4 linked regions of the Homo sapiens genome follow. The protein of the gene in region 1 purifies or fractionates together with the protein of each later gene. This does not show direct contact. Each region holds a gene or a part of one and is shown in the gene's direction. Other genes may lie near its edges. The genes, in order: E2F6, L3MBTL2, YAF2 and CBX3.

Region 1 (7,825 bases):
TGTCTTAGTCTGTTCAGGCTACTATAACAGAACACTGTGAACTGAGTGGGCTTATAAACAACAGAAACTCACAGTTCTGGAGGCTGGGAAGTCTAAAATCAAGGCACTGGCAGATTCAGTGTCCAGTGAAGGTCCACTTTGCTTCCTGGTTCATAGATAATGTGATGGTTAATATTGAGCATCAACTTAATTGGATGCAATTAATTTAAATAGCCACAAAGTATGCAAAGTATTGTTCCTGGTGTGTGTCTGTGAGGGTGCTGCCAAAGGAGATTAACATTTGAGTCAGTGGACTGGGAAAGGCAGACCCACTCTCAATCTGGGTGGGCACCAGCTAACCAGCTGCCAGTGTGGCCAGAATAAAATGCAGGCAGGAGAACATGGAAAGACTAGACTGGCTGAGTGTTCTGGCCTCCATCTTTCTCCCATGCTGGATGCTTCCTGTCCTTGAACATCAGACTCCAAGTTCTCCAGCTTTGGGACTCTTGGATCTTCAACCACAGACTGAAGGCTGTACTGTTGGCTTCCCTACTTTTGAGGTTTTGGGACTTGGACTGGCTTCCTTGCTCCTTAGCTTGCAAACGGCCTATTGTGGGACTTCACCTTGTGATTGTGTGAGTCAACACTCTTTAGTAAACTTCCCCTCATATATAAATCTATCCTATTAGTTCTGTCCCTCTAGAAAACCCTGACTAATACAGATGGTCATCATAAACCAAAAAGTATCTGAGACGGGTCTCAATCAATTTAGAGGTTTATTTTGCCAAGGTTAAGGACAATGCCTAAGAGACAGGTCTATACCTTTCTCTGAAGATGATTTTGAGGGCTTCAATATTTAAAGGGGAAAGGGCAGATATTGGGGAAGGGGGAAGAAATTTTTAAAAGGTGTTGATAGATAAGAGCTAAGTGGTTGCATTCTTTTGAGACTTTGATCAGCCGTTCACACAGAAGAGGCGGGTAGAGGAATAGTCACTTATGCATTCACCTAGCTCAGTGAATCTGCACTTTTACATAAGACAAAATAAACATGGCAGAGGAGGCCATCAGCTATGCATTTGTCTCAGGTGAGCAGAGGGATGACTGAGTTCTGTCCTTTGTCTATGTCCTGTCCATACCTATGAAGATAAGCTGTCAATCTACATTGTCCGGGTGAAATTCAACAGAACTATTTTAGGGTAAAGATCTTGGGGCCCACAGGGAATTTCCTGTGGGGAAAATGTGGAGGAAGCATGTAGCTTTTTAACGTTGTAGCTATCTTATTTAGGAACAGAATGGGAGGCAGGTTTGCATGATGCGGTTCTCAGCTTGGCTCTTCCCTTTGGCTTAGGCACTAATCCCACTCCTGGGCAATCTTTCCTCACGACCTAATCACCTCCCAAAGGCCCCATGTCCGAATATGATCACATTGGAGATTAGGTTTCAACATGTGAATTTTGAGGGAACACAAACCTTCTGACCATAGCAACTGGACTCAATGATATCTACAATTTTAGTTTCTTTGCCTGGGCTATCCAATATGGTAGCAACTACTTATGTGGCTATTTAAATTACAAATTATATTAAATTAAATTAAATTGAAATTCACTTCCTCAGACACACCAGCCTTATTTCAGGTGCCAGTGGCCACATGGGGCAGTGGCCACCATATGGAACAATGTGGAACATTTCCATCATCACAGAAAGCCCTAGTGGATATGGTCATTTCCTCACGGACCTCTGGAGAGGACATTTTCAAGTAGAAGGGAAGTAAAATATCTTCTGACAGATGAGGGCTTTCAGGATTGCTCAAGCACACCTGTGCAGTTGGCCTAATATTTCAGCCCTAACTTTAAAAATGATCCCTGGGAAGTATAGTCTTCAGCCCTAACTTGAAAGTCCCAAAGCCCATGCCCCATTCTGCCCTAGCACCATTTTGCCCCAGGAAGCATACACAAAAACAGGGCTGGAACTGGGAAATACCAGAATTTCTGTGCTCAGAACTGTGACTGTATATCAATGTAAGGCCATGGTGGACAAAGCCAAGGATGTAGTGGCCAAAGTCCTGGTATTTGAGTACCCAACCTGGAACAAACTTCTCTGAGCCTCTGTACCCTCATATATATATATATATATATATATTTTTTTTTTTTTTTTTTTTTTGAGACAGGGTCTTGCTGTGTCACCCAGGCTGGAGTGCAGTGGCATGATCTTAGCTCACTGCAACCTCTACCTCCCAAGTTCAAGCGATTCTCTTGCCTCAGCCTCCTTAGTAGCTGGGATTACAGTCGCCTGCCACCACGCCCGGCTAATTTTTGTATTTATAGAAGAGACAGGGTTGCGCCATGATGGTCAGGCTGGTCTCAAACTCCTGACCTCAATCAAGTGAGCCTCCTGCCTCAGCCTCCCAAAGTGCTGAGATTATAGGTGTGAGCCACCATGCCCGGCCTTCTATAAAGTATTCTTGAAATAGCTGCCTCACAGGCAGATGTGGAAAAGCACCTGTAGTTTACAACTAATTCAGTTATTATTTTTTCTTCCTCTGCTGTGCTGCTATTGTGTGTTAGACACACTCTAATTTAGTACTTATGCTTTCTGCTTATGTATCTCCCCCAGGCTAGTAGCCCCTGGAACACAAGGTAAGGCCCCATCAGATTCAGTTCTTCCCTCAACACCTACCCTACTGCTTGGCCCATGAGAGATGCTTCAAAAAAAAAAATGTGCAAAAGATTATGTCTTGGGGAAAAGCCAGGTCACAGGCACAATAAGTGTGAGGATTGTGCCATTTCCCCGACTCTCCCCAGCTCTGTGCTCATGCTCTTTCTTTAGCCTGGACCACTTGCTACTCCGTCCTGATCCACACCCCACCTTTACTTGCCCAACCCCAACTCTGGTTGTAGAGAATCTAGTCGTCCTTGAAGAATCTTCCTAAAGATCTGAATGCCAAATTAATTAATCAGTTGTGGAGTCAAAGCCTGCCTCTACCACTGCCTACTAGGACCTTGAGTAAATTTTTGTAATCCTGCTGATCTTAATTTTGCTGATCTGCAAATTGGGCAGAAAAATACCTATCTTTCAGTTTTGATATGAGATTTACATAAGCAAATGCATGTGGAATGCCAAACACATAGCAGATGCTGAATAAATGCCTTCAAATGGCCATTTCTAACGGCTCTGGGAAATTCTCCATTCTGCAACAATATGCAGTCTTCTCGAGACCTCCGCTACGTTCTCTTTTTTTCTCATCGTTTATTTAGCAAACATTAATAGAGCATGTTTTATTTGCCAGACACTTTGCTAGATGATAGAGATACAAAGATTAGAAGCCAGGCATGGGTGTCTCACGCCTATAACTCCAGCACCTTGGGAGGCTGAGGCAGGAGGATTGCTTAAGGTAAGGAGTTCAAAAAATAAAATAAAATAAAACATAAAAAAAAATTAGCCAGGCATGGTGGCATGCACCTGTACTCTCAGCTACTTGGGAGTCTTAGCTGGGAGATCACTTGAGGCCAGGAGTTTGACGCTACAGTGAATTATGACCGTGACACTGCCCTCCAGCCTGGGTGACAGAAAAAAAAAAAAAAAGATTAGAGAAGGCCTCTGACCTCACAGTCTAGTGGGGAACCAGCTTCTTCGGGGATTTTTCCCTGCCTCACCTCGCCCACCTCAGGCTGTGTAGAAACCCCCAGTCTAACCAGTTGTTTCCCTCCAACTCTGTACATACCACGGTGTGTTGCCTTTTTATTTCAAACATGTGCTGGCCTCTGTTCTAATCACAGCAACCTGTATCCATTAATCCATTTAATCCTCACAACAACCTTATCAGGTAAGTATTGTCATTATTTGCATTTTCCAAATAAGGAAACTGAGGCACAGACAGATTAAGTAACTGGCTTAATAAGGTCTTCTAGTTTATACGTAGAGGCAGCCAGGACTTGAAAACACACCTTCTGGCTCCAGCTAAATTAACATGCTCTGTTTACTTATCTGTCCCCACTGAAATTGGAGGTTGAACCCGTGGCATATTCAAACGAATAAGTATCGCCTGTGCCCACCCCAATATCTGACACTATAGGTCAACGATAACTCATTCGTCAAACAGGAAGGAGGAAGGAAGGAAGGAAGGAAGGAAGGAAGGAAGGCAGGCAGGCAGGCAGGCGGGCAGGCAGAGGTAAAACGATTCCACAATGGTGTGGTTGCTCACATTTACTAAGCATCAACACTGACCTGCCTGTAAGATGCGCTAACAGAGCTCACGAATAAATGAAGGCTGGGTGTGGTAGCTCACGCCTATAATCCCAGCACTTGAGAGGCCAAGGTGGGAGGACGGCTTGAGCCCCAGAGTTCAGGACCAGCCGGGGCAATATACTGAGACCCTGTCTCTACTAAAATTAAAATTAAAAATTAGCCAGGCACAGTGGCGCGCGCATGTAGTCCCAGCTACTTGGGAGGCTGAGGTGGAGGATCGCTTGAGCCCGGGAATTCAAGGCTGCAGTGAGCCCTGACCACGCCACTGCACTCCAGCCTGGGCGACCAAAAAAAAAATTAAAATAAAAAAAAGGAATAAATGAACATCTCTGCGGCTCAGAACTTTCAGTTATCACCTCAGAACTTTCAGTTATCACCGTCGAGAATTCCAGGCGACCGCTGGGTTTTCCCGGTTGCCTCTTTTCTCTCACCCCTGTTCCCTTCCTCTGGAATTCGGCTCCACCTCTTCCTTTTCCTTTGCCAGCCTCTCCGTGGATTCCGCGGTCCGGGTTTCCCGGGCGGCAGCCGCCGGGAGAGGATCGGTGCGTGGGAGCGCTCCGGCAGCGGCGGGCATGCGCAGAGGGGGGCGGTGTACTGCGCATGCGGGAAGATGGCGGGCCGGGCGACTTGAGATCCGCGGGTCTCCCTCCTCTTTTTCCGTCTGCGTCGGGAGCTCCCGGGCACGTGAGGCCGTGCCGCGTTTACTGGCGGGCGGGACGGCCTAGCCGGGCGGCGCCTCGGAGGAAGCCGCGGACCCCTTAGGTGCTGGGCCCTTGGAAATCGGCGCGTGGGGGGCGGTGCTCGAGCTGAGCGCGAGAGGGCGGGAGAGCTCGTGGGGTGCGAGGGGAGCAGGACGCCCGGCCGGGCAGCATGAGTCAGCAGCGGCCGGCGAGGAAGTTACCCAGTCTCCTCCTGGACCCGACGGAGGAGACGGTTCGCCGTCGGTGCCGAGACCCCATCAACGTGGAGGGCCTGCTGGTAAGCTCCGGGACGGGACGGGGACGGGCGGTGGTCTCCCAAATCCGGCCCCCTCCTCCCCGCGCCGCCGCCAACCCCGCTGGCCGTCGTCTGGGTCGTCTGCTCCCCCTGGGCCAGGCGCTGCCCATCACGTGCTGCGAACTGCGCTCTCCCGCCTTCTGCTTTCAGCATCTGCTCACAGACGTGGTATCAGTCTTCTAGGCTTTTACATCGGAACTTCAGAGCACTGTTGGAGAAAATTGCTCAACTTTGCATTAGAGAGTCCATGTTTATCTCCTTCTATGGACTCTAGCTGTATCTCTGCAACCTATCATTTGTTTTTCTGCCTCCTCTCCCATCCTTCTGCTCTACTGCAGCCGTTTAAAACCTTGTCCACGCTTTATATTTCCCACGCCACAGCTCCCATTCATCAAATTATCTCCCCACCTGTTTGACAGAGAAAATGGTTAGGAAATTTGGCTCCCTTTCCTGCAAAGGCTGATTTCTTCTCTTGTTCAGGACCAGATGCTGTATTCCCCGCGGTTATCAGGGCCCTCAACAAATGCATTTTCTTTTTCTTTTCTTTCTTTTTTTTCTTTTTTTTTTTTTTTTTTGAGATTGAGTTTTACTTTTGTTCCCCAGGCTGGAGTGCAATGGCGCAATCTCAGCTCACTGCAACCCCCACCTCCCAGGTTCAAGAGATTCTCCTGCTTCAGCCTCCCATGTAGCTGGGATCACAGGCATGCGCCACCACACCCAGCTAATTTTGTATTTTTAGTAGAGACGGGATTTCGCCGTGTTGGCCAGGCTGGTCTCGAACTCCTGACGACCTCAGGTGATCCACCGAGCCCGACCTCTCCCCGTATTTTCAATTTCTCTGCTGCTTTCTTTCTATAACTAGTAGTAATTAAACATTTTCCCAAGTCATTATGCCTGGTTCCCCTACCAAATAGTTTGTGATTATTGCCTCATTTAATTTCTCATTTCTCACAGCAGTGTTTTATAATACTAAAAGATTATTATTCTTGTTTCACGGTTGCCAAAACAGACTTGGAGATGCATGTAACGCCGGCTTGCCTGTGGCTGGATAATAAGTGTAGAAACTTGGGTTGAAGCTCCAAATGTCTAACTCCAGATGATAAATTCTTGACTACTAAAACCGCATTCTAAATCCATCCCCATCTTAAAAGATCTCTCCCTTGATTCCATATCCCCTCCCATCTACTGTCTCTCTTCCTCTTCACAGCTAAACTTTTTTTTTTTTTTTTTTTTTTTGGTGACGAAGTCTTGCTCTGTCACCCAGGCTGGAGTGCAGTGGCCTGATCTCGGTTCACTGCAAGCTCCGCCTCCCGAGTTCACGCCATTTTCCTGCCTCAGCCTCCTGAGTAGCTGGGACTACAGGCACCCGCCACCACGCACGGCTAATTTTTTTTTGTATTTTTAGTAGAGATGGGGTTTCACCGTGTAAGCCAGGATGGTCTCAATCTCCTGACCTCGTGATCCACCCGCCTCAGCCTCCCAAAGTGCTTTCACAGCTAAACTTCTTGAAAAGGTTATTTACACTCACTGTTTCCACTTGATGGCCTCTTATTACCAGCCAACCCACTGCTGGGGACCCCTATCCTAAGCACACTTGTAAGACCATTCTAACCAAGGTCACCGACAAGCTCGTCAATTCCAGCAGCTGTTGTAGTTTTGACTACAACACTCGTGTTAGAAACCCTCCCTTGAGCTTCCTTGACGTTTGATGCTCCATCTGCTTCTCTGGCTTCTCCTTGTCCTCATCCTCTTCCCATTCCTTCATGTTGATTTGTTTTTCTGTTTTTGTTTTTGTCCCCCCCCCCGGTGCAGGATCTCACTCTGTCACCCTGGCTGGAGTGCAGTGGCACATCATGGCTCACTGCAGCCTTACCTCCCAGGCTCAAGTGATCCTTCTGCCTCCAACTCCCAAGTAGCTGAGACCACAGGCACATGCCACCACACCTGGCTAATTATTTTTATTTTTAGAGATGGGAGTCTTCCTATGGGGCCCAGGCTGGTCTTGAACTCCTGGGCTCAAGCAGTCCTCTCACCTCAGCTCCCCAAAGTGCTGGGATTACAGGCGTGAGCCTCTGCAGCTGGCCACATGTTGGTATTATTCAGGGTTCTCTTCTACCGTCTCTACACATTCTTCTTAGGGGAGTTCATTCACTCCTCCCATGACTTCTGTTACCATCTACATTTGATCATTGAACGACTCAGGGATTGGGGCACCAAATCCCATGAAATTCAAAATCTGAATATAACTTTGATTCCCCCAAAACTTTACTGTTTGCTGGAAGCCTTACTGATACCGTAAACAGTTAATTGACACATATTTTGTATTTATATGTATTAGTTACTGTTTTCTTATAGTAAAGTAGCTAAAGAAAAGAAAATGTTATTAAGAAAATCATAAATAAGAGAAAATCCTACTCCTTCGGGGGAATTAGGTCATCGTAAAGGTCTTCATCCTTGTCTTCACACTAAGTGGGCTGATGAACAAGAGTAAGAGGAGGAGCTGGTTTTGCTCTCTAAGGGGTGGCAGCGGGTAAAGAAAATTGGTCTCTAAGTGGACCCACACAATTCAAACCTGTGTTGTTTGAGGGTCAGCTGTATATTGGTA
Region 2 (7,025 bases), on another chromosome or scaffold:
AATTGTAATATAGCCTCGGTTCTGAGCCAGGGATGTGCCTGGCACAGCACAGGGTAAAGCCCAGTCTGGGGCGCCTCTGGGCTGTCTGATTCTGTCTGGTGTAGGACTCCTGTGTGGCACAGAATCATCTTTGTGGCATTTAATTTTAAGAAATGATTTAGTAAAAATTAAAAAGTCACATATATACATGGTAAAAGTGACTCATACCTGTCTCAGTGTCTCAGCACTTTGGGAGGCCAAGGCAAGAGGATCACTTGAGGCCAGGAGTCTGAAACCAGCTTGGGCAACACTGTGAGACTTCGTCTCTTGAAAAAAAAAAAAAACATTAGCTAGGCACGGCACAGTGGCTTACTCCTGTAATCCCAGCACTTTGGGAGGCCGAGGTCAGAAGATCACCTGAGGGCAGGAGTTCCAGACTAGCCTGGCCAACATGATGAAACCCTGTCTTTACTAGAAATACAAAAATTAGCTGGGTGTGGTGGCATGCGCCTGTAATCCCAGCTAACTCAGGAGGCTGAGGTGAGAGAATCGCTTGAAACCGGGAGGCCGAAGTTGCAGTGAGCTGAGATCGTGCCACTGCACTTCAGTCTGGGCCACAGAGCGAGGAGACTCCATTTCAAAAAAAAAAACAAAAACTAACAAAAATGGCGTTGGATTGTGGGCTGCACTGTGTTGGCTGTAGATGAAGAGAACATGGCAGGGAAGGCAGCCCAGAGGGGCCCCGAGCCAGGCCTTACCCTGTGTTTTCTCTCACTCTCCTGAGTGAGCTGCTGGGATACCGGATGTGGGACAGGCAATTGGTGTCAGGACGTATCCCAAGCCCTTGAGCTGGGCCAGAGGGTCTGTCTGGTTTAGGACCCCTGTGTCAGCTTTGCCTGTTGGCTGCTTTGTGACCTCTGAGACGCTTTCCTTCCTGGTGTGTTTGGAAATAGCACTGCTTAGTCTAGTCTAGGCTGGTTCTTCCTGACCCAGCAGTGCCCTGGGGCTGGAAAAGCCCTACACCCTACCTGTTCCCTGCCCCAGGCAGGACAGCACTGAAGTCACAGTGAACAAAAAGAACCTCCTCCTCTGTACCCCAGCACCATGGCTCTCTGTAGAGCAGCTCGAGGGCATCTTGGTCACCATCCCTCATTAGGTCAGTTGCTACCAAGGCACTGTGAAAGCACTGCAGAGCTGCAGCCCATCAGGGTCAGAAAGGGACACAGGAAGACTCAGTTCTCTGGACATGAGTCTTGTATGTGCCACAGGCAGAGGGCTGGGAGGGGGCGGGGAGGGCAGGATGCCTGGGGATCAGAGTGCAGAGCCCATGAGGAGCACAGGCTGCACACCAGCTTCCAGGCCCAGCTCTGGCACAAATGAGTCTGTGTAATTCTGGGCAGGCGTGACCTCTGGGTCACTTTTCCTTAGTCTAAAGTGCGTTTTGTGATTTGCATCAACTCATTGGCGTTTTGGTGGCAAGAAGTGGCATGCCCACTGCAAGCCGTGTGCCTTCCCTCTGTGTCCTCCTAGGGAGAGCTGTTGCCTCCCTCTGTGTCCTCCTAGGGAGTCAGGGCCAAGGTGAGCCTGGCAGCGCAGGCAGTCTCATCTGCCACCTCCCGACTGACTGAGTGTGGGGGATAACACCACACCTTCCCTGTCCTCCACTCACCAGAGCAGGAGGGTGGGTGGGAAGAGCCCTGAGCCATAGCAGGCCTGTGTTCTGACGTCGTTTCAGATGGTGGAGAGCATGAAGTACCCCTTTAGGCAGGGCATGCGGCTGGAAGTGGTGGACAAGTCCCAGGTGTCACGCACTCGCATGGCTGTGGTGGACACAGTAATCGGGGGTCGCCTACGGCTCCTCTACGAGGATGGTGACAGTGACGACGACTTCTGGTGCCACATGTGGAGCCCCCTGATCCACCCAGTGGGTTGGTCACGACGTGTGGGCCACGGCATCAAGATGTCAGGTTAGCAGAGCCCCAGGCCAGAGGGACTGCATGCTGTGCTTCCCCAGGGACGGAGTGGGAGCACCTTCCTACTCGTCACAGCAGGTCAGCAGGTGGAGGTTGGCATGGCCCCCCTGCAGTGATGATACTGAGCTCCAGAGAGCTTGAGTAACTTGACAAAAGTCACTCCACTCAACTTGTGAGTGGTAAAATCAAGATTTGAACCCAGATGCTACCAGCCCCGATCCTCTCCCCTGTCAATGCGGGAGCAGTCTGGGTTTCGAGGGCTGAAGAGTCCCTACAGAGAGCTCTTGATGTTTTCTGGACTCAACCTTTCTGTCTGCTACTCTGGGGTGGGGGGTCCTGAGATACAGAGATACAGCTGAGAACACGTGCAGAGCAGCCCCACATTCCCAGGGGAGGCGTGTGGAGATGGCCCAGGAGCCGCCTCCAACTCCCTTCTCTCCCTCATTCCCTATCCATCTCCTCCAAAGAGAGGCGAAGTGACATGGCCCATCACCCCACCTTCCGGAAGATCTACTGTGATGCCGTTCCTTACCTCTTCAAGAAGGTGAGGTTCAGCTCTTGGGCGCTTTTCCCCTCAGCCATGGGTCCATTCCGGGCCTGAGGGACCTGGCTCTTCCCCTGGGACCATCCCTTTCCCTCCTGAGGCCTGCTTCCCTCACCCTTCCTCCTGGCCTGCCCAGGGAGTCCCCAGCTGTCCCATTCCTTTAAGGTACGAGCAGTCTACACAGAAGGCGGTTGGTTTGAGGAAGGGATGAAGCTGGAGGCCATTGACCCCCTGAATCTGGGCAACATCTGCGTGGCAACTGTCTGTAAGGTGAGCCAGGGGCCGGCTCTCCAGCCTCCAGATTTCTGAGCGGGGGGACCCATGTGGCCCAGAGCTCTAACCCCACTCGCCACCGTCAGGGGGTCTGTGTCCCAGCCTCTCATCACTGGCTGCACCCAGAGTCCCTGACTTTTGTGAGTGGGGCCTGGCCTGCCCCTTGCTCAGAATCTGCTTTCGTGTCAGGGTCCAAGGCTCCCTGGACGAGTGCTTATTCAACACCTGAGCCTGGTCCTGTGTCAGAGTAGGCCCCTCCCTGTCACCTCACTGGGGCCTTCTTGCTGTGTGCCATCTCCTTTGAGCGCTGGCCTAGGCAAGAGCCACAGCTGGGGTCACCTTGCTCCAAACCTCATCGCCTCCTCCTGAGCAGCACCCCCACCCCTCCTTGGCCCTCCTGGAGGAGGCTGCTGACTCGTCCTCGCCGCGGATCCGCTCCATGCCGGGCGCGTGTGCTCACCCAAGAACACGGTCCAACAGGATGGACGCGGCCCCTGCTGGCGTGGTGTTTGCTGTCTAGTGGGGAAGAGAAAGAATCCCACGCGTATGCATCACAGAAGTACTGTGTGCCCCAGAGAGGCTCAGGTGTCCTCCAGGAGGGCCATGCCCTAGATCCGTTTGGATCCATTTGCCTCGTGTCCCTATTGGGGTGCGGTACCAACCCAGGATGGGGTGCAGTTCATGATATGATCTGTCTGCCTGCTCCCCCCACCCCCCAGGTTCTCCTGGATGGATACCTGATGATCTGTGTGGACGGGGGGCCCTCCACAGATGGCTTGGACTGGTTCTGCTACCATGCCTCTTCCCACGCCATCTTCCCGGCCACCTTCTGTCAGAAGAATGACATTGAGCTCACACCGCCAAAAGGTAAGACTAGAGAGGCCACCACCTGCTGTCCTTGCCATCAGAAGGGGCAGGGTGTCCAGGCGCGGTGGCTCCCGCCTGTAATCCTAGCACTTTGGGAGGCCGAGGCAGGTGGATGACCTGAGGTCAGGAGTTTGAGACCAGCCTGGCCAACATGACAAAACCTCGTCTCTACTAAAAATACAAAAATTAGCCAGGCATGGTGACAGGTGCCTATAATCCCAGCCACTCGGGAGTCTGAGGCAGGAGAATTGCTTGAACCCAGGAGGTGGAGGTTACAGTGAGCCGAGATCATGCCATTGCACTCCAGCCTGGGCGACAGAGCAAGACTCTGTCTTCAAAACAAAACAGAAGGGGCAGGGTGTGGCCACAAGCCCAGATTCCTGGTCAAGTCAGGCCCCAGAAGTGTAGCATTTCAGGGTGTATGGGAAAGGTGACAGAGCCCACCACCAGCCCTTAACTGCTGGGCTGACCCTACCCCATGGCCAGTGTATGGTTGATGAACAGAGCTCCCACTTATCCCATTGGTCAGTGAACAACCTATACAACAGGACTGTGGTGCTAGAGCAGGTACTACCCTGAGGGGATGAGAAGAAGGCTGCTGGGGAGACTCCATGCTGGGTCCTGACCAAGCTGCAGAGCTTCTTCAGCCATGTGTCCTTTCCTCCTGCCCACTTCCTGCTTCCCCCTCTCCCTCTGCATCTGAGCTTTCTGCTCCTCCAGGTTATGAGGCACAGACTTTCAACTGGGAGAACTACTTGGAGAAGACCAAGTCGAAAGCCGCTCCATCGAGACTCTTTAACATGGTGAGGAGACTGAAGTGGAGCAAGGGGCCTGCGGTGGCCTCAGGACAGGCCCTGCCTGCTGCTGTCAGTGGTGGCAGTTCCTACTCTTTCTCTCGAATCTCTACTGCTGACATCAGCCACTTTCAGGGGGAAGTCCCCAGCTATGGCCTGGGCACTCCAGTCCCTCTTCCATGGAGGGCGGTACTGGGAGAGGTGCAGTGGGTTATTGTCTAGAGGAAGCTGCCCCAGCAGCCATTCCAGTCCCCGCCCCTCCCTGCCAGTTCTTCAAGTGCCTCCGGGCCGGGGCAAGCCTGCTGGGGTAGGGAGCTGACTGGCTTGGCCACTGCCTCCTTTTTCTGCCCCAGGATTGCCCAAACCATGGCTTCAAGGTGGGCATGAAGCTGGAGGCCGTGGACCTGATGGAGCCCCGGCTCATCTGTGTGGCCACGGTGAAACGAGTGGTGCATCGGCTCCTCAGCATCCACTTTGACGGCTGGGACAGCGAGTACGACCAGTGGGTGGACTGCGAGTCCCCAGACATCTACCCCGTCGGCTGGTGTGAGCTCACCGGCTACCAGCTCCAGCCTCCTGTGGCCGCAGGTGTGGGCTCTCGTGGCCCTAAGAGGCTCTGACTTTCTTTCCTCTTCTTTTTTCCTTCTTCCCCCGCCCCTGTGCCCATCTCCGTTCTTTGGCATGAGGTGGAGATGTCTCATGGACCACTTTAAGTAGAGAGTGAGCCCCGTCACCCAGCCCCTGCTCCTGACTTCTCTGTCTCCCTTTCCCTCTGGCCTGCAGAGCTCCTTCCTTCATCTTGCCCACTCTGTCATATGTTCGTGCCCTTGTGCACCCAGGTAAACTACCCAGGTCCCTCTGAGCAGCCCTGGTAACAAGGGTGGGAAGAAGGGACAGCTGTTCTCCGGCCCCTCCTCCAGCCCCGCCCTCTCCTCATTGCCCAGGTTTGGCTTCCTGTCTTGGGGTGTCTCGTGTGGGAGGGTGGATGGGGTCTCGGGATGCGCCTGTGCCCTGTGTCCTCCCAGGGACCCTCTTCTCATCTCTTTCACCCTTGTCTTTCAACAACAGAACCGGCCACACCGCTGAAGGCCAAAGAGGCCACAAAGAAGAAAAAGAAACAGTTTGGGAAGAAAAGTAAGTGCTGCACCGGTGCAGCCAGGCTGGTGTGGGCCTGGGAGCAGTGGGCCTGCGTCCCTGGGAGCAGGCGGGGGTCAGCCCCCAGGCACTGGTTCCCAGGTGCTGTCCTACTGACGTAGCTCTCTTCGTGTTCCTGTCCTGTCTCTTTCCCCTTGCCCTTTGGCCTACGGGCCTTTCACCCTGTCTCTGGGGACCCAGACCATAAATAGGGAGTGTTCAGTCTCTGGCCATGGTCAGGGTGCTGAGGAAAAGAGGTAAGAGATTGAGGTTGGGGGATCCCATCCCTGATGCCCCATGTTCAGAAAAAAACAGCCTGGCCTGGGCAAGCCGCAGCTGCTAGGTTCTAAAGGAAAAGCCACAGGAAGAAATAGAAGCTGTCTCTCCAAGGCTGTCATTCTTACCTCGAGACCTCTTTGAGGGTGGGAGAGGGTGGGAGCAAAGGCAGGCAGCTGAGTGGCAGGACTCCACCTGGCTCTCAGGCCGTGGGTGTCGTTTCCCTTGGTGGGGCCTCACTCTACAGATTCTGAGCCCAGCTTGGGTTCCACTTGAGGGGCAGAGCGGGAGCGGGCAAAGCCATCCTTCAGAGCCGCAGGCCTATGACAGCGAGGTGGGCTCCACAGTGTGGTACCATGTGGGGAAGAGGATGTTCTGAAACAGAAACAAGGTCCCTTGGGCAGGGTTAAGATTGAGTGAGGCGGCCAGGCGCGGTGGCTCACACCTGTAATCCCATCACTTTGGGAGGCCGAGGTGGGCGGATCATGAGGTCAGAAGTTCCAAGACCAGCCTGACCAACATGGCGAAACCCCGTCTCTACTAAAAATACAAAAATTAGCCAGGTGTGGTGGCAGGCGCCTGTAATCCCAGCTACTTGGGAGGCTGAGGCAGGAGAATCACTTGAACCTGGGGGCCGGAGGTGGCAGTGAGCCCAGATCGCTCCACTTCACTCCAGCCTGGGCGGAAGAGGGAAACTCCATCGCACAAAAAAAAAAAAAAAATTGAGTGAGGGTGTGGCATTTATCCAGCAGGCAGAGGCTCTGTACCATTCAAACGGTAGGACCGGGAATGGTGCATGTTGTGGGAAGAAATCAACAATCAAAAACGGGGGCTGAGTGTGATGGTTCACACCTGTGATCCCAGCACTTTGAGAGGCTGAGGTGGGAGGATCTCTTGAGCCCAAGAGTTTGAGACCAGCCTGGGCAACATAGCGAGACCCCTAATTTAAAAAAAATTTTTAATTAGCTGGGTATGGTGGCACAGGCCTGTAGTCCCAGCTACTCAGGAGGCTAAGGTAGGAGGATCACCTGAGCCTGGGAGGTCAAGGCTGCAGTGAACTGTGATCACCCCACTGTACTCAAACCTGGGTGACAGAGTGAGACCCTCTTCAAAAAATCTTTTTATTTAAAAAAAGATTTTAAAAAGCAGTTACAACCACGACTGCCTGGGGCTTGGTTTGAGGGA
Region 3 (7,165 bases), on another chromosome or scaffold:
TTGGGCCAGTTCACCCCTCCTTAGGCAACCTGGTGGCCCCTCACTCTTGGGAAGTCACCATATTGATGGCGAACTTAGTGCAGACACTCGAATAGTATAGCACACTACAGCCCACAGCTCCTGGGTTCAAGTGATCCTTCCTGCCTCAGCTCTCAGCTTCCTCAGTAACTGGGGAAAGTAAAGATTGCTTTACTTTTTTTTTTTTTTTTTTTTTTTTTTTGTGAGACAGAGCCTCATTCTGTCACCCAGGATAGAGTGCAGTGGTGTGATCTTGGCTCACTGCAACCTCTGCTTCCTGGATTCAAGTGATCCTCCCACCTCAGCCTCCCAAGTAGCTGGGACTACAGGTGCATGCCACCACACCCGGCTAATTTTTGTATTTTTTGTAGAGACAGGGTTTCCCCATATGGCCCAGGCTATTGTTGAACTCCTGAGCTCAAGATATCTGCCCACCTCGGCCTCCCAAAGTATTGGGATTACAGGCATGAGCCACTGGTCTGCCCTCATTTACCTTTTAAACATTAAGGTAAGGCCAGGCACAGTGGCTCATGCCTGGAATCCCAACACTTCAGGAGGCTGAGGCAGGAGAATCGCTGGAGCCCAGGAGTTCAAGGCTTTAGTGACCTATGATCACACCACTGTACTACAGCCCAGGCACTAGAGTGAGACTCTCTCACACACACACACAAAAACAAAAAAACAAACAAACACACAAAAAAACAAACAAACAACAAAAAAAGTAAATCATCAGAAAACTTCAACACTTGTTAAATTGTTAAAACGATCGTTAGTGTTTGTCACTTTACAAGTGACCGTAATGAATTAACATTTCTAAAGTACTGAACTCTGTTACTGTATTGAAAAGACACCTGATTGGGTAAGAACCTGGGCCACTTTAGTAATAAAAAGATCTGTTTTCTCCACAACAGCCACTCTTACAGCTAGTAAACACTTTAGGAAAGGTGTGACTTTTTGTGGTGAAATGGGAGGAGTACCTCCTGTACTACTGTCTCCACGTAAGCCTAGTAGGGGCAGAGATTTTTTTTTAAGAGAAACACCCATAAATGGGAGGCAGTTGGTATAGTGCAAGGGCATATGATTCTGTGCTCCACAAAAACTAGGTTCCTGGTTCATCGACAAGGATGTGTGGAGTTGTAAAGTTCATTTTGAAGGATAAATGTTAATTCTGGCATTTATTGACCATCCACTGCATGCAATATGCCTAACAGTTTGTAAATCCCAATATGAAAGAAAAAAATCTCATTCAACAATTGTAACACAAGTGAATGTATTGATTATTTAGTTTAGAAACAGGGTCTTGGCTTTGTTGCTCAGGCTGGTCTGGAACTCCGGGGCCCAAGTTATCTTCCTGCCTCAGCCTCCCAAGTAGCTGGGAATACAGGCGCGCGCTAACCTGACTATAAGTGGATGTATTTATTCTCAGAATATTTATTGAGTGCCCACTATGTGTCACACTGTTCTAGGGGCTGGAGATGCAGCAATAAAGGCAACAAAAGTTATTGTGCTTTTTGTTCATGATTCAGAGGTGCGGCTTACTTTTTAGTGAGGGAGGTTACAATCTAGTGAAATGGTGATTTGCAGCATGGGGGATTTTTAGAGTGCTTGATTTAGTTTCCTTTTTATTTAAAAATACATTGTTGCCATCACTTTTGCAAGTAGAGCAGTTCTTGTCAGTCTATTTGAGGATCCATCCAGTTGAGGCATTTAAAAACATCACAATGCCTTAGACTTGCAAGGGACCTTAGTTGTGATAATAGTTTTAACTCCTTTATTTTACATATGAAAAAAACTTAGCTGAGTTTACCCACTGCATTACTGAGAGGTTAAAGACTAGGCCTTAAATCTGGTTCTCTTGTATACGTGCCTCAATCATACTCCTCATGGTTCCTGGTTTCCGAATTTGGGTCTGAATCATGAGAAGCTACATTTGCAAAAAGTACAGATGGTACAACGAGTTTAGAGACTGCTATGTAAATGGAGTGATTTGGTTAATCAGAAAGAAGATGCGGTGAAAGACCAATAGGATACCTGAGCTCTAACCCTGGCCTGCTCATCAAAGAAAAACCATTTAACCTGGGCCCTAATTGCCTTGTCTTTAAAAAGAAGGGCTAGACTACGGATTTACAATGGCTCGACTTACGATTTTTCTACTTTACGATGGATTTATCGGTGTACCAAATGCATTTTCAATTTACAATATTTTCTATTTAAGGTGGATTTATCGGGAAGTATCCCCTTTCTAAATCGAAGAGCATCTGCAGTCGATGAGGCCATGTGCATAGTACTTTGAGTCCTTTAAAATATGCATCTATGCGCAGGGATTTACAAAGTGCCTGGCACATAGTGCTCAAAAAAATGTTATTTATTTATTTACTTAGAGGCGGAGTCTCGCTCTGTCGCCCAAGCTCGAGTGCAGTGGCACGATCTCGGCTCACAGCAACCTCTCACTCTCGGATTCCAGCGATTCTCCTACCTCAGCCTCCCGAGTAGCTGAGATTACAGGCGCCCGCCACCACAGCTGGCTAATTTTTGTATTTTTTAATAGAGATGGGGTTTCGCCACGTTGGCCAGGCTGGTCTTGTGAACTCCTGACCTCAGGTGATCCGCCCGCCTCGGCCTCCCAAAGTGCTGGGATTACATGCGTGAGCGACCGCAACCGGCCAAAAAATGTTATTATTAATCGCACAACAATCTCATATAGATGCAATTCAGAATATGAAAACGTTGAGAATTACAGAAATTAAGCAATACTTCCAAGGTCTATCAGCTAAGAAACAGGAGAAGCAGGCTGAGAATCCTGGGCTTCTGACTGTATTATTTCCTATGTAGTTTAGCTATAAAATTATTTTACATGAATTCGGACTTGATGTAAACCTAGAAAGATGGACAGAAACAGCACAGTTAAAGAGGGATATACTTTATGCAGAAGTAACCCATGTGCATGAAGGAAGGGTTCTGGTAAGGGAATGAATTTCATCTGCACTCTTTGTCAGGAGGCAGCTTTCCTTATGGGAGAGGGAGGCAGAGGTAGGGAAAATGTGTGAAGCCTTTGAATGCCAGGCTAAGGAGTGTGGGCAAGTCGTTAGTGGTTCTTTATCAGAGTGGTGGCATAGTATTAACAGCATTTTATTATTAATCTGGTTGTGGATTACTGAATACATTGGGGAGGTAGAAGTGGAGCTTCGGAGACCAGTTAGATGGCTGTTGCTGGAGTCTGGAGTATGAGGACCTTTAGTATGTTGACGTAGAGACCTGGGAAGGTGTTCTTTTGTTAGCAGACAGCGTTGAGGGGACATGCAAACTCCTTATATTTAAAAAGGACTTATGAGTATATAGGGGTTTCTTTCAAAAGCAGCTACTGCAGAGGCCTGAGAGGCCAAAAGGGCGCGTTTGGAATTAAAACAGAGTTAGACTCTTGGCTTTGTCATTTTCTAATTATATAGCCTAGAGGAAGTCACCTAATCTCTCTTGAGTCTTGATTTCAATTCCTCTAAGTTAGGGTTGACAATCCCTACTTGTTAGAGCATCTGTGTGCATAAACCAGACAGTGCTTTAAGGCATGTAGCAATGGCGCTGCGTGTTGGTTCCCGCCTTCCCCCCGGTATACTGCAGGCGGGGGCTGGGTAGCTAAGGACAGCGGAGGCCAGGAAAGTCGTTCTACCTGGAGATCCCGGGCTGGCACTTCTGTCCAGACCTGGACAGGCCTCCGAACGCCGGCCGGCCCTACCTTGGACCAGGCTTCGCACGGGATGACGGAGCATCCCCTGCCAGTCGGTGGGACAGACGTTTTCCTCCTCAGAGGGGCTCTGGAGCGCGAGGCAGTCCCCGGCAGCCGGGGGTACCAAGGGGGCAACGGGGGAACAGCGCGGAGAGGCGGCGCCGGCGCCCGAGGCAGCCGCGGCCACCGCGGCCACCCCCGCACCGCCCGCCGGCTAACTCGCCGCGGGTGCTGGGCCGCGCTGGCCGCGTTTGAAGTCTCCGGCGCGGCTGCTGGTTGGCCGGCGAGGGTCACGTGCGCCCAGGCAGGAGTTTCCCCGACAGCTGGAGGCTGCGTGGGATCCGGCGGCGGCTCCCGAGCGCGGCGGTGCGGCCTTCCCCGCCCCCTCCCTCCCTCCTCCCCCGCCCGCTTCCGCCCGGCTTATTATCCTCCTTATTGACAAACAGAGCGGTCGCGGCGGCGACTCTCGGCGTGCGGTGATAGCCAAGCCATGGGAGACAAGAAGAGCCCCACCAGGTAACAGCGCCCGGGCCCCGGGGCCCGGACTGTGCGGGCGGCAGGGCCCTCGTGCAGGGCTTCGGGTGGCCGCCTCGCTAGCCGCCCGGGCACCGGGGCGAGCACGGGGGCAGCGCCGCTGGTGTGCGAGTGCTGCCGCTTGAGGGGGCCGGCGCCGGCCGCCCCACAATGGAGCCGCGATGGCGGCGGCGACCGGAGCGGCCGCCCGGGTGTCAGAGCGGCTGTGGCGGCGGCGACTGCGGCCGCGCTCGCGCCCTGCCTCTTCCTGACTCCCTTCCCCCTCAGCCGGAGCGCGGCGCGCCGAGGGCCCGCGGGGCGGGGGTCGCAGAATTGGGGCGGGGGGCGGGGCGGGGGCGGCCGCGGGGCCCGGGCACCGGGCGCGGCCTGCTGGTGACCCCGCGCCGCGTCGTGTCCGGGTTGTGTCCTGCAGGCCGAAGCGGCAGCCGAAGCCGTCCTCGGATGAGGGTTACTGGGACTGTAGCGTCTGCACCTTCCGGAACAGCGCCGAGGCCTTCAAGTGCATGATGTGCGATGTGCGGAAGGGCACCTCCACCCGGTGAGTCCCGGGCCTGCCCCTCGCGCCGCCGGCCGGCGGGGTGGCGACCAGAGGACGCCCTTGCGGCTGCCGCCCCCTCCCATGACACTGGCGGACCCGGCGGGAGGAGGCAGACGGAGGTGGCTGTGGCGATAGGAACTGGGTCACATTGATCGCAACCCAGGCGATGGTTTGCGGTGAGGGGTAATTGAAGAGGCTGTAACGTTTTTTGCTGCCAAGAGAGAATAAATTATTTAAGGGAGGCATTAGCTACTGCGATTTAATTCGTATCGCTGGGTGTAATGCCCCTCTCCCCATTCTGGGTATAAAAATGTTGGCTGCATTGTTGTGTTAGTGTGTGGGGATCAAGGAAAACCCATAAAATCTCTTTAGGAGCAAAGGATGTAATTTAATTTCGTTCCTAAAGAAAGAAAAGTATCTGATTGCAGAATACACAATATATTAAAACTTATTTTTCTACATGTACTTCTGGAAGGGTCAGATCAAGGTTTTATTTAGTGTTTTTATTCCAGTACTCTAATATTTTATAAATAAGTAGTTGGAGATGAGCCCAGTCACAGGAACAGATTTTTACTGAAAGTACCTTTATATCTTTAGTTTGATTAAATGGCAGTCTCTTAGACAAATGAGATGAAAAGATCTCTGCCTATTTTCAGACTTTATTTATTGTAAGCTTGCAGTATAATAACTCTGTCTTTTAAAAAATGACTTTGAATTAAGTGAATAAAGAAAATCATCCAGGAAATTCAGTCAGTGGCATTCTTAATCTGTCAGCACTTAGTTATCGAGCTCCTTGATTCTTATACGAAGGTACCCTTTGAATTAAATATAATCCTGTGATTTATTACTTAATATTTAGAGAAGATATGTATTTTGATATTACAAAGTCCATTAGAAACTAAACTATAACAATAAGCATACTAATCTTACTGTTGCTTTAAAAAAGAAGGCACATGTAATATTGACATATACAAATATTCAGTAGACGTTAGATTTCTAAAAAATGAGATCTTGATTTTTTAAAAAACACTTTACAGAATTTTATTAAGTTTAAAATTTAGAGACAGGAATGGTTGACAGTAACTTATCTGAAAAATTTCTCAGTGAAGCTCGCTGGTTTTGACATGCTTGTTTTTTGTAAATCATCATATGCTTTTTGTATATTCCCACAATTGATAAAATATTTCGTACATTTTTCATATTCAAAAAGCAAACTTTCAAACGTATGCTAAATTTAAGGGATTACAACAGAACATTCCAAAAAGAAAAAAAGTATTTGCTAAAATGATTGTGGTTACTATTTTTGGACCCGTGATTTGTGATTTAAGTATTTTGAAAAGCAGAGTATCTTCTTGGCTGTGTAAGGTTGGAGTTGGTTTAGAGTATATTTGTGTATCTGTGTTAGTACTTTGTGCTTTTTAAAATGCTCAATAAGCAATTTTTAGAAAATTCGTTTTTTGGAGGCAGGAACATTAAAGTGGAAACAATTATAATCTTGATCTCTGGTACTATATATTATTGCTTTTTGTTGTTCCCTCTCTATTTTCTTGTAGCCATTAGAAAAATACTGAAACTAGAAGAGCCTATATGTTTATTTGCAGGGACAGCAAGGAAGGGGGGAAGCTGGTGTCCTACTCCACAGCCAGTCTTGGGGTTAGAGGAACCCTGAGAAATAGAGTAGGTGGTGGCAGCTCAGAAGAGAAGAAACAGGCTGAATACCTGGCACCTGGAAGAAGAAGGAATATAGTACACAGGGGAGTTGGCCCAGGACAGAGAAGTGGGCCTAGTTTAAAAGAGGCTTGAGGCCCACATGGGGGCCCCTGACATTTTTTTTTTTTACCAGTACATCTAAGCTCTTGTAGATCCAATTTTTAGTGGTGGAAACATTACTTGAGGAGGACTCAGAGAAGCATTGTCATTTGGATTGAAACTGAAGAGGCTCTGGGCAACTCACCAGAAATCTAAGGGACACTGTGTTCCTGAAAGTAAGTGTTCTACACCACGACCCTCTCAGCTTCTTCCTTCCTCTCTCTGAATTCTCTTCTCTTTTGATTTTGGCTCTAAGTTAAACCTAAGAGCTCTAATTTCTCTGTTATCTGTTATTTTCCTAGTGGTTTCTGAAATTCAGGGTAGAATCTGTGTTTGTATAGAACAGTGTGGAACAGGGTATTGTTACTAGAGAAGATATTGATTGCATCACAGAATATTAATATTTTTCCTCTCTGGTAATGTTAAAAAAACAAGATTAAAGGACTGCAGAACGGTGTTGAGAAGCAAAAGTTTCAGTAGTTGGAAGAAATAATTCTCCATAATTGACTTATTAATGAACAGGGTAATTTCCAGAGTAAGGTTGG
Region 4 (7,757 bases), on another chromosome or scaffold:
AGTTACATGAGCCCCTGGTTTTCCAGATTCCTAAAATAGTGGTGGGGTAAAAGTCATCCAAACAGAAAAAAACACAAGCATAATTCAAAGCACCCAACCGTAGTACCATACTTCGCTTGTATCCACCTTAAAACTACCAGATATAAAATAGCTTTTAGGGACCTAGCTTTTGAAAAATAAGCTAGCTTAAGAAAATGGTCCAGAAACCCAACACACCTTTAATAAGAGAAAAAATCTTGAGTTAAAACTAAATTCAGAAATAGTTTCTGATTTTCAGCAGGGCAGCGTTCTTCATGTTAATGCACAAGACAGTCATTGTTTGCTTACCTCTCTTGCTACAGCACGTTTTGGCTCAACTACTCTCCCATCAATTGAATGAGGTCTTGCAGCCATGGCAGCATCAACCTCAGCCATGGATGAAAAAGTTACAAAACCAAATCCTCTTGATCTTTTGCTTGCAGGATCCCTCATTACCTTTCAAACCAAAGGGTAAACTTTAGCATTTAATCTCATTATAGCTTATAAGTGAAGTCATAATAGAATTTTTTACTATGCTGATAGTTATTTCCTCCATGATTCACTTAACATACAGCTAAAAGACTAATATCCAGTAACAATTCAGTAATTTACATACCACACAGTCTGTAAGCTTTCCCCATTGTTCGTAGTAGTTCCTCAAACTTTCTTCTGTGGTTTCAAAGCTTAAGCCACCAATAAAGAGCTTACGGAACTGTTCCTTTTCTCTCTGCAAAGGAAAATACCATTTCAATTTTTATTTACATTTTCCTCTTTGTATGCAGGAAATTAAATTCTTAAATATGAGGTGACCTGCTGGCAGAGTACCTTTTTCCTCTCCAAAGGAACAGTTTCTAAAGTTTTCTGGGGGGAAAAAAAAAACTTACATCAAATTTAAACCATATGTTAAACTGCATATTAGTTGTGTTACACCAAAAAATTGCCTCAGCTGATCTACACAAGTTTCAAAGTCATTAATGCTTGATATAAATTTACTCAACATTAAATTATCTTAAATTATTAATTAAAAAAAAAACTTTCTAAGGAAAAATAAACAAATGTAGACCGTGATTATCAAAGGATTATTAAAGAATCTTTACCAAAAATTTCAACCCTACAACCTAAAAACGCAAATTTCTATTTTTAAACATCAGAAAATAACTCTTGGTTCATTACTTATGACCCAAAGTTTTTATTTCACTATTCAATATCTGAAAAGTATCATTTATTTTCCCTTAACTGCCCCCTCTGGTGGTGATTCTAAGTATCTCAGCCAAAAAAACACAACTTTTTACAACAAACACTAAGTTTCTCCATATGACTCTCAGTTACGAAAATATTTAAAGATATGCATTAGAAATAACCTTAAAAATTACTCTTATAACCAGGACAAATTAATTTTTATGACCAGCAGCACTCGAAGCTTAAAAAGTTTAATTTTTGGTGGACATGTCTATATTTGATATATGACAATACAGAATATGAATTACTCAGCTTAACCATATGTACAATAAAATACATTCACGTGGCATAATCTCTAAGATAACAATTACTGAAAGCTGAAGCTTACTTGATTGGCCATGTGGCAAGCGACAGGCACAAAACAATTTTCCAAGTCAATAGGAAAAACCTCAGAGCTGAAATCTTTATATGCTGTACTACACAGCTGTATTCTGGGCACTTATGAATGTTAAGGAAACCTGTCTTAAAAGTTAACTAGGTTAAAAAACCTCAAACGAGAGAAAGTGATATCCAGGACCAACTGCTACAAACGCATAATGCAAACTAAAAAGTCACACGTAATTTTCAATCAATTATTTTTTGTTCCTAGCAAGCAGCATTAATTGCTGCTCTCATCCCAGTTCTACGGAGCTCTCCCTCCATTCGCATGCTCCCAACTCCTAAAAAGTAGTGGTAAAACCCAGTTCAGATTTTTTTCCTGTAGTTTTCATGACTCGTAAAAATTAAAGAAAAAATTAACTGAAATGATCAAACTAGCTCCTATGAGACACAAAGCAGTCTTTTGAAATGGTTACTTGTCACGATAGTTATTTTCATTTTTTCAGCTAGTTTTTATTCTTAATTGTCGTCAGCACATAGGTTATCTCTAAACTGAAATTACGGATAATGTACATTTATAACAAGTTTTACAAATCACTAACAAAAAGCAAAAACTCATTACTTACCTCACAATTTATCCAAACTTACCCGATGTCCACTATCGATTTTAAACAATGTTATTTTATAAACGTGCTTAGGGTCAAAGAAAATAACCAGGTAGACCCCCTTCGCTTGAGACCTTATGCTTATCAATGTAATGTTCAACCAAGATTGCAAACAAAATGAGAAAAGTAACAAAGTTCAAATACAGAGCGGCCCAGGCCCAAAACAGTTTTGCACATCAATCCATACGCATTACAGGAAGGAGCCTCTGAAGCCATGTTTTAATCGAAGTATAACTAAGGACAAAATCGTTATTTCACTTTCCTCGTAATCATCTATAAAGGTCCATGGATCTGTCCCGTAAGGGTTAAACTTCTCAGTAACAACATTACTTAAAATGAGTCAGCTCTACAACTTAAACGGAATCCTTAAGAACAGTAAAGGATTCTGACGCGAATATCCCTCCCCCGCCCAGAAAACCACCTTCGTCCCTGCCCCTCGTGGCCGATGGCTTCCAATTTATGTTTATTTTGCCGCGGTTCATCTGTCGTTTTACTGACTGCAGACCCAGATAAAACCGTTACTCAAAGGAAAAAAAAGACAGGAAAAACATAAAATGGTTTCTTTGTCCTACGGCTCGCATTGAACCCGGCCCGACGCCCTGGGTGGTGATATCTTCTCTGAAACCGGGCCCGCAAACCCGGAGCACCCCCCCTCCCCGCTCTTCGGTGTGGCTTCCGAACGCAATGGCGCCATTTCATCGAGGGGAAGGCTGAGCGCCTTTAATGAGGTGCGCAGGACTCTAAAGATCCAAGCTCACAAAACACTCCAAATCCACCTCGAAACGATATGAAAACAGCCCGAGAAGAAAAAAAAATAGTTAACCACTTCTACTTCTTGATAGAGAAAGCACACTAAGAAAATAAAAGAGTTATAAGGAAAACGCTGAGAGGAAGGCGAGCCATGAAAATGGCGGCCGCCAAATCCGGTTCCCGGGAGAGAGGGGGAGGGGAAGCTCCGCAGCCTCGCTCACGAGGACCTGCTGCCCGCCGAAACGCTCGCCGAGGAGACGCCGTGGCCCCCGAAGCAGCGTGCTTTAGAAAGGGAATAAGAATTCCCGCCTCCGCGCCCCACTTTCACCCCAGCGGGGCAGCGTCCGCCATGTGAAAGCTCCCCATCCCCCACCCCCAGTGAAGGGAAATGGCGCCGGGAGGCTGAGGGTGGGGAAGCTGTTTGTACGCTCAGGCCTCCGCTCAAGACCCCGTTCATAAACCTTAAGCCCCACTGCTACTGAATTGGTCCGATTTCCTGCCTCTCTCCCACGGAGGCGGCTGGCCGACTTCCACTGAGGCGCCAACGGCCTCGCCATGCCCTTTTCAATAACTCATTGATTTCAAACCCGTTACCTCCATCGCGGACTCAGTCGCTTCAGCCCGATTTCCCGCAGCCGAGCGAGATGAGAGAGATCTCCGCGGACGAACACGAACCGGACTCGTCCTGGCGCTGTAGTGAGAACTGCCGCTGCTCGAGAAACAACTCTGCGAGGAGCACCTCCGCACGGGACCCGGCGCTGCTGCTACTGCCGCTAGAGCCGCTGCCGCCGCTTTTCTAGAACCTTCCCCCCCACTAACGCGTCTTCCGCTACGTCAGGCCGTCGCGTAAACGCCCTATCCGCCGCCAATGGCGGGAAGGCTCTACGCCCCACCTTACGCCAAATGCGTACTCCTCCCACCCTTGCGGCCAGAGACAGTACCCGACGTTACTTCCGTAAATGCGCTCAATGAATTGCGGAAGGCTAGAGTCCTGCTAGTTACTACCTCTTGGAATAGGGTCCCGCCCCCTGCCTTGGCGCAAGGCAGGTGAGAAACGGTCGCGCAGTTTGAAATTAACGCCGACGGGAGGGGCTTAATCCGCAGCCTGGAGATCCAGCCCCCTCAACCCGGGAGGTGGTCCCTGCAGTTACGCCAATGATAACCCCCGCCAGAAAAATCTTAGTAGCCTTCCCTTTTTGTTTTCCGTGCCCCAACTCGGCGGATTGACTCGGCCCCTTCCGGAAACACCCGAATCAACTTCTAGTCAAATTATTGTTCACGCCGCAATGACCCACCCCTGGCCCGCGTCTGTGGAACTGACCCCTGGTGTACAGGAGAGTTCGCTGCTGAAAGTGGTCCCAAAGGGGTACTAGTTTTTAAGCTCCCAACTCCCCCTCCCCCAGCGTCTGGAGGATTCCACACCCTCGCACCGCAGGGGCGAGGAAGTGGGCGGAGTCCGGTTTTGGCGCCAGCCGCTGAGGCTGCCAAGCAGAAAAGCCACCGCTGAGGAGACTCCGGTCACTGTCCTCGCCCCGCCTCCCCCTTCCCTCCCCTTGGGGACCACCGGGCGCCACGCCGCGAACGGTAAGTGCCGCGGTCGTCGGCGCCTCCGCCCTCCCCCTAGGGCCCCAATTCCCAGCGGGCGCGGCGCGCGGCCCCTCCCCCCGCCGGGCGCGCGCCCGCTGCCCCGCCCTTCGTGGCCGCCCGGCGTGGGCGGTGCCACCCCTCCCCCCGGCGGCCCCGCGCGCAGCTCCCGGCTCCCTCCCCCTTCGGATGTGGCTTGAGCTGTAGGCGCGGAGGGCCGGAGACGCTGCAGACCCGCGACCCGGAGCAGCTCGGAGGCGGTGAAGTCGGTGGCTTTCCTTCTCTCTAGCTCTCGCTCGCTGGTGGTGCTTCAGATGCCACACGCGTCCCGGGGGCCCGGTTCTCCGCTCCCCTCCCCTCCCCTTCTCGCCGGACCCCGCGCCGGGAGCTGCGGGAAGGAGTGGAGGGTCGGGCGGTGGCCTCGCGGCTGGCCTGGCGCGCGGCCAGCGCCGGTAGTTAGTGGGGGGACTGCTCTGCCCTCGAGGGGGTAGGGAGCTGTGGCGACGGTTGCCCCATTTCGAGACAAAGCGCATTTCCCCCTCCCCTCCCCCACCCGCGTTCCGGCGGAGGCGCCCCCTCCCCCAGCCGCCACGCGGGGCTGGGTCGAGACTTGGGCCTCCCGGAGGGCGGCGCGTGGTCCCGCGTCCGCGAGGCCTGGCGGCGCGCGGCCGGCTGTCCCGAGGCTGCGGCGACCGCCCAGTTAACGTGGCCGCCGCGGGGGTAGGCGCGTGCGGTGTGGCGCAGTGCCCTTGAGCCCCCGTGCCGCGGCCTTTGTTTCTCCCCGCGGATGCGCTGACCACGAGGCCCGCGCTCCCGGGTGGGGGCGGGCACCCGCGCTTAGGCCTCTGGACGCCGGGCTTCAGCGGCGGGGGTCGGGAGCGGGTGTTTGCAAGAGGTGATTCTTTTTTCAAAGTGTCACGAAACGGGGTTGAAGCATCTTAAGTTTTTTCCTTTTGTTATTTAATTACCGATTGGAAAGAGGGAGGGTTTCTGAGCAGAAACCAAGTTGGGATTGCAGAACAGAGAAGATTCACAGTGCTTTACCGTTGTGAGTTGTTTGGGTAATCGTGCCTGGTTTTAAACCGAAAGGATTGTCCTTTAAAAATGGAACATGGACTTTATTATAAATGGGACTTAGATTGGAAAAGACATTGGTCCCCTATTTTAAGCCATGTGAAGCTGTTTTAGGTACCAGGATCCCCAGTAAAGTCTTTCTAGACTCACATGGTTAGGACACGTACTTAAGTACATCATAAGCAATGTAGGTAGGAGCGCAGATCTACTCTGGATTTGTATTCACGTTTGAAATGTGCGCTCTCTACTTGGGGGTTGGAATCCAAACAGAATTTGTATTTAGTTACCTTTTTTGTGTCATGCAAACTTACCTTAACTGTCATGCATTTTTCTAGTAATAGCTCTTCAAGTCTGCAATAAAAAATGGCCTCCAACAAAACTACATTGGTAAGTTAATGAAAACCTAAAATATGTAAGGATTTAACTCAAGTTTTTTTTCCCCACAGTATAACTTTGCATCTCTGTGGCTGAGAAATTTACATCCACATATTTCCCAGCTCTCCCAGTGTAAATTACAGGGGAAAATTAAGAGAAAAACGAATTCATTACAGGGAGATACTGGCTTGGCTTAATAGTGTCTTAACTAGTTCAAAGAAGGCTAATCTTTGAAGGACAGTGCAATGTGGATTTTGCTGAGGATTTTTATCTTCAAATAGAAATACACACATTTTTGCAGCGTTGAAAAATGTTACATAAAATGGTAAAGCCCTTGTTGGTTGGCATAATTTTTCTTAAATCCCCAGAATTCTGGAGAAGTATTTTCATTAAAGCCCAATTTAAAGAACAAGGTACCTTGTGCACCTAGGTTGGAGCAAAAGTCATTGAATCTTTCAAATTACTTTGGTCACTTTATCTTGTTTTAACTTACTCTAAAACATAGAAGAATATTAAGTTTAATTCATTGCAGTGTTTTGTTTTTTAAACAAAATGATCGAAATCGCAAATATGAGCCAGAAGGGAGAAAAGGCTAGATTTTTTTTTTATCTTATTCAGCCATGTCATGTTACAAGTTTTTTTAAACCCTGGAATATTCACATAAAAATCATGAAATTCAAAGTTACAGTTTTCACAATATTTAACATTGCATTAATCTTAAACACGTAAAGGTGAATGTTAATGTCTCCTAGGTAAAATAAAGCATTTGTTTTTGGCTTGTATGTGCTCTCTCTGGGTTTCACACTAAAAAGGGCACGTTAGTGATTTTTAATTTGTGCCATCATTAGATTCTGCATTAAGTCTGTTTACCCTGCATTAGATTCTGCATTAGATTCTGTTTACCCTGGAAAACAGAAGTTGTTTTTGCACGCAATTGATAGCCTTTGGGGTCTGTTATTGTATTTAGTTTATTTTGTGAAGGATCACAGGTTGGCCACTTTAAAAGTTCTTAACTTTCCATTTTAAAAATTCATTAGTGTTGTGAGATATGTGTGCTGTTAATTTCACTTAAATAATGGGAAATTTATTTTGACTCATCCACTTTTGGAAAAAAGTGCTGGGTTAAGGCAAATATATACTATAAAAGAAAATAGTGAGCATTTGAAACTAGCTTATGAATGCCATAGTAGTGAATGAATACTGTATGGCATTTTGTCTGCCTTTTTTTTTTTGTAAACCTTAGTGTGTATCCTTTTCATTTTCTGTATTTATTGTTGACTTTATTTTGTTAGCCTTCTCCCTTTGTGGCAGTAGCTGTTTTGTTTTTCATGTAGTATAGGTATCTGATACACTTCTGTCTATTACAGTTTGTCTTTGCTCCTCCCACCATTATTCCTACCTTCTTGTACTGTACAGTGGCAGAAAGCTGTTTGGGCCCAGTACTCAAGTATCTTGACTAATGAGAATCATAACACCTGACTTAGAAATGGTATCCAAAAACGTCAGGTGTTTGCTGCATGTTTTTGTATTTCAGGGGATTTTTATTTTGTGTGTGTGTATGTGTTACCTATATGCTTGCATAGCTTGAAATGCCCTTTTGCAGTCTTGAGGCCTTTCTTACATATCTGTCTGCACACTTCATATGCCTGCATAGCTTGAAATGTCCTTCTGTAGCCTTGAGGTGTTCTTAACTTTTTTCTGCTTGCTGCTTTACTTGTGGGATGGCTTTAATGA

Evidence for each region.
Region 2: the proteins of E2F6 (region 1) and L3MBTL2 purify together in Homo sapiens (affinity purification with mass spectrometry; 7 studies listed by BioGRID and IntAct, with this or other methods). This does not show direct contact.
Region 3: the proteins of E2F6 (region 1) and YAF2 purify together in Homo sapiens (affinity purification with mass spectrometry; 5 studies listed by BioGRID and IntAct, with this or other methods). This does not show direct contact.
Region 4: the proteins of E2F6 (region 1) and CBX3 purify together in Homo sapiens (affinity purification with mass spectrometry; 4 studies listed by BioGRID and IntAct, with this or other methods). This does not show direct contact.

The regions. Positions count from the first base shown.
Region 1 is NC_000002.12:11,463,149-11,470,973, reverse strand, and holds the start of E2F6 (transcription factor E2F6), read left to right. Parts: upstream 1-4,812; 5' UTR 4,813-5,094; coding exon 5,095-5,202; intron 5,203-7,825. UniProt on the Homo sapiens protein: Inhibitor of E2F-dependent transcription. Binds DNA cooperatively with DP proteins through the E2 recognition site, 5'-TTTC[CG]CGC-3'. Has a preference for the 5'-TTTCCCGC-3' E2F recognition site.
Region 2 is NC_000022.11:41,222,306-41,229,330, forward strand, and holds part of L3MBTL2 (lethal(3)malignant brain tumor-like protein 2), read left to right. Parts: intron 1-1,714; coding exon 1,715-1,946; intron 1,947-2,419; coding exon 2,420-2,496; intron 2,497-2,661; coding exon 2,662-2,766; intron 2,767-3,488; coding exon 3,489-3,636; intron 3,637-4,356; coding exon 4,357-4,439; intron 4,440-4,783; coding exon 4,784-5,018; intron 5,019-5,213; coding exon of another isoform or gene 5,214-5,269; intron 5,270-5,498; coding exon 5,499-5,564; intron 5,565-7,025. UniProt on the Homo sapiens protein: Putative Polycomb group (PcG) protein. PcG proteins maintain the transcriptionally repressive state of genes, probably via a modification of chromatin, rendering it heritably changed in its expressibility.
Region 3 is NC_000012.12:42,235,245-42,242,409, reverse strand, and holds the start of YAF2 (YY1-associated factor 2), read left to right. Parts: upstream 1-4,161; 5' UTR 4,162-4,229; coding exon 4,230-4,255; intron 4,256-4,674; exon of another isoform or gene 4,675-4,685; coding exon 4,686-4,811; intron 4,812-4,839; exon of another isoform or gene 4,840-4,977; coding exon of another isoform or gene 4,978-4,994; intron 4,995-6,412; coding exon of another isoform or gene 6,413-6,614; exon of another isoform or gene 6,615-7,165. UniProt on the Homo sapiens protein: Binds to MYC and inhibits MYC-mediated transactivation. Also binds to MYCN and enhances MYCN-dependent transcriptional activation. Increases calpain 2-mediated proteolysis of YY1 in vitro.
Region 4 is NC_000007.14:26,196,988-26,204,744, forward strand, and holds the start of CBX3 (chromobox protein homolog 3), read left to right. Parts: upstream 1-4,757; 5' UTR 4,758-4,839; exon of another isoform or gene 4,840-5,622; intron 5,623-5,983; 5' UTR 5,984-6,011; coding exon 6,012-6,035; intron 6,036-7,757. Other genes in the region: HNRNPA2B1 (heterogeneous nuclear ribonucleoproteins A2/B1), read right to left, coding at 1-30, 328-474, 635-745, 844-879, 3,585-3,590.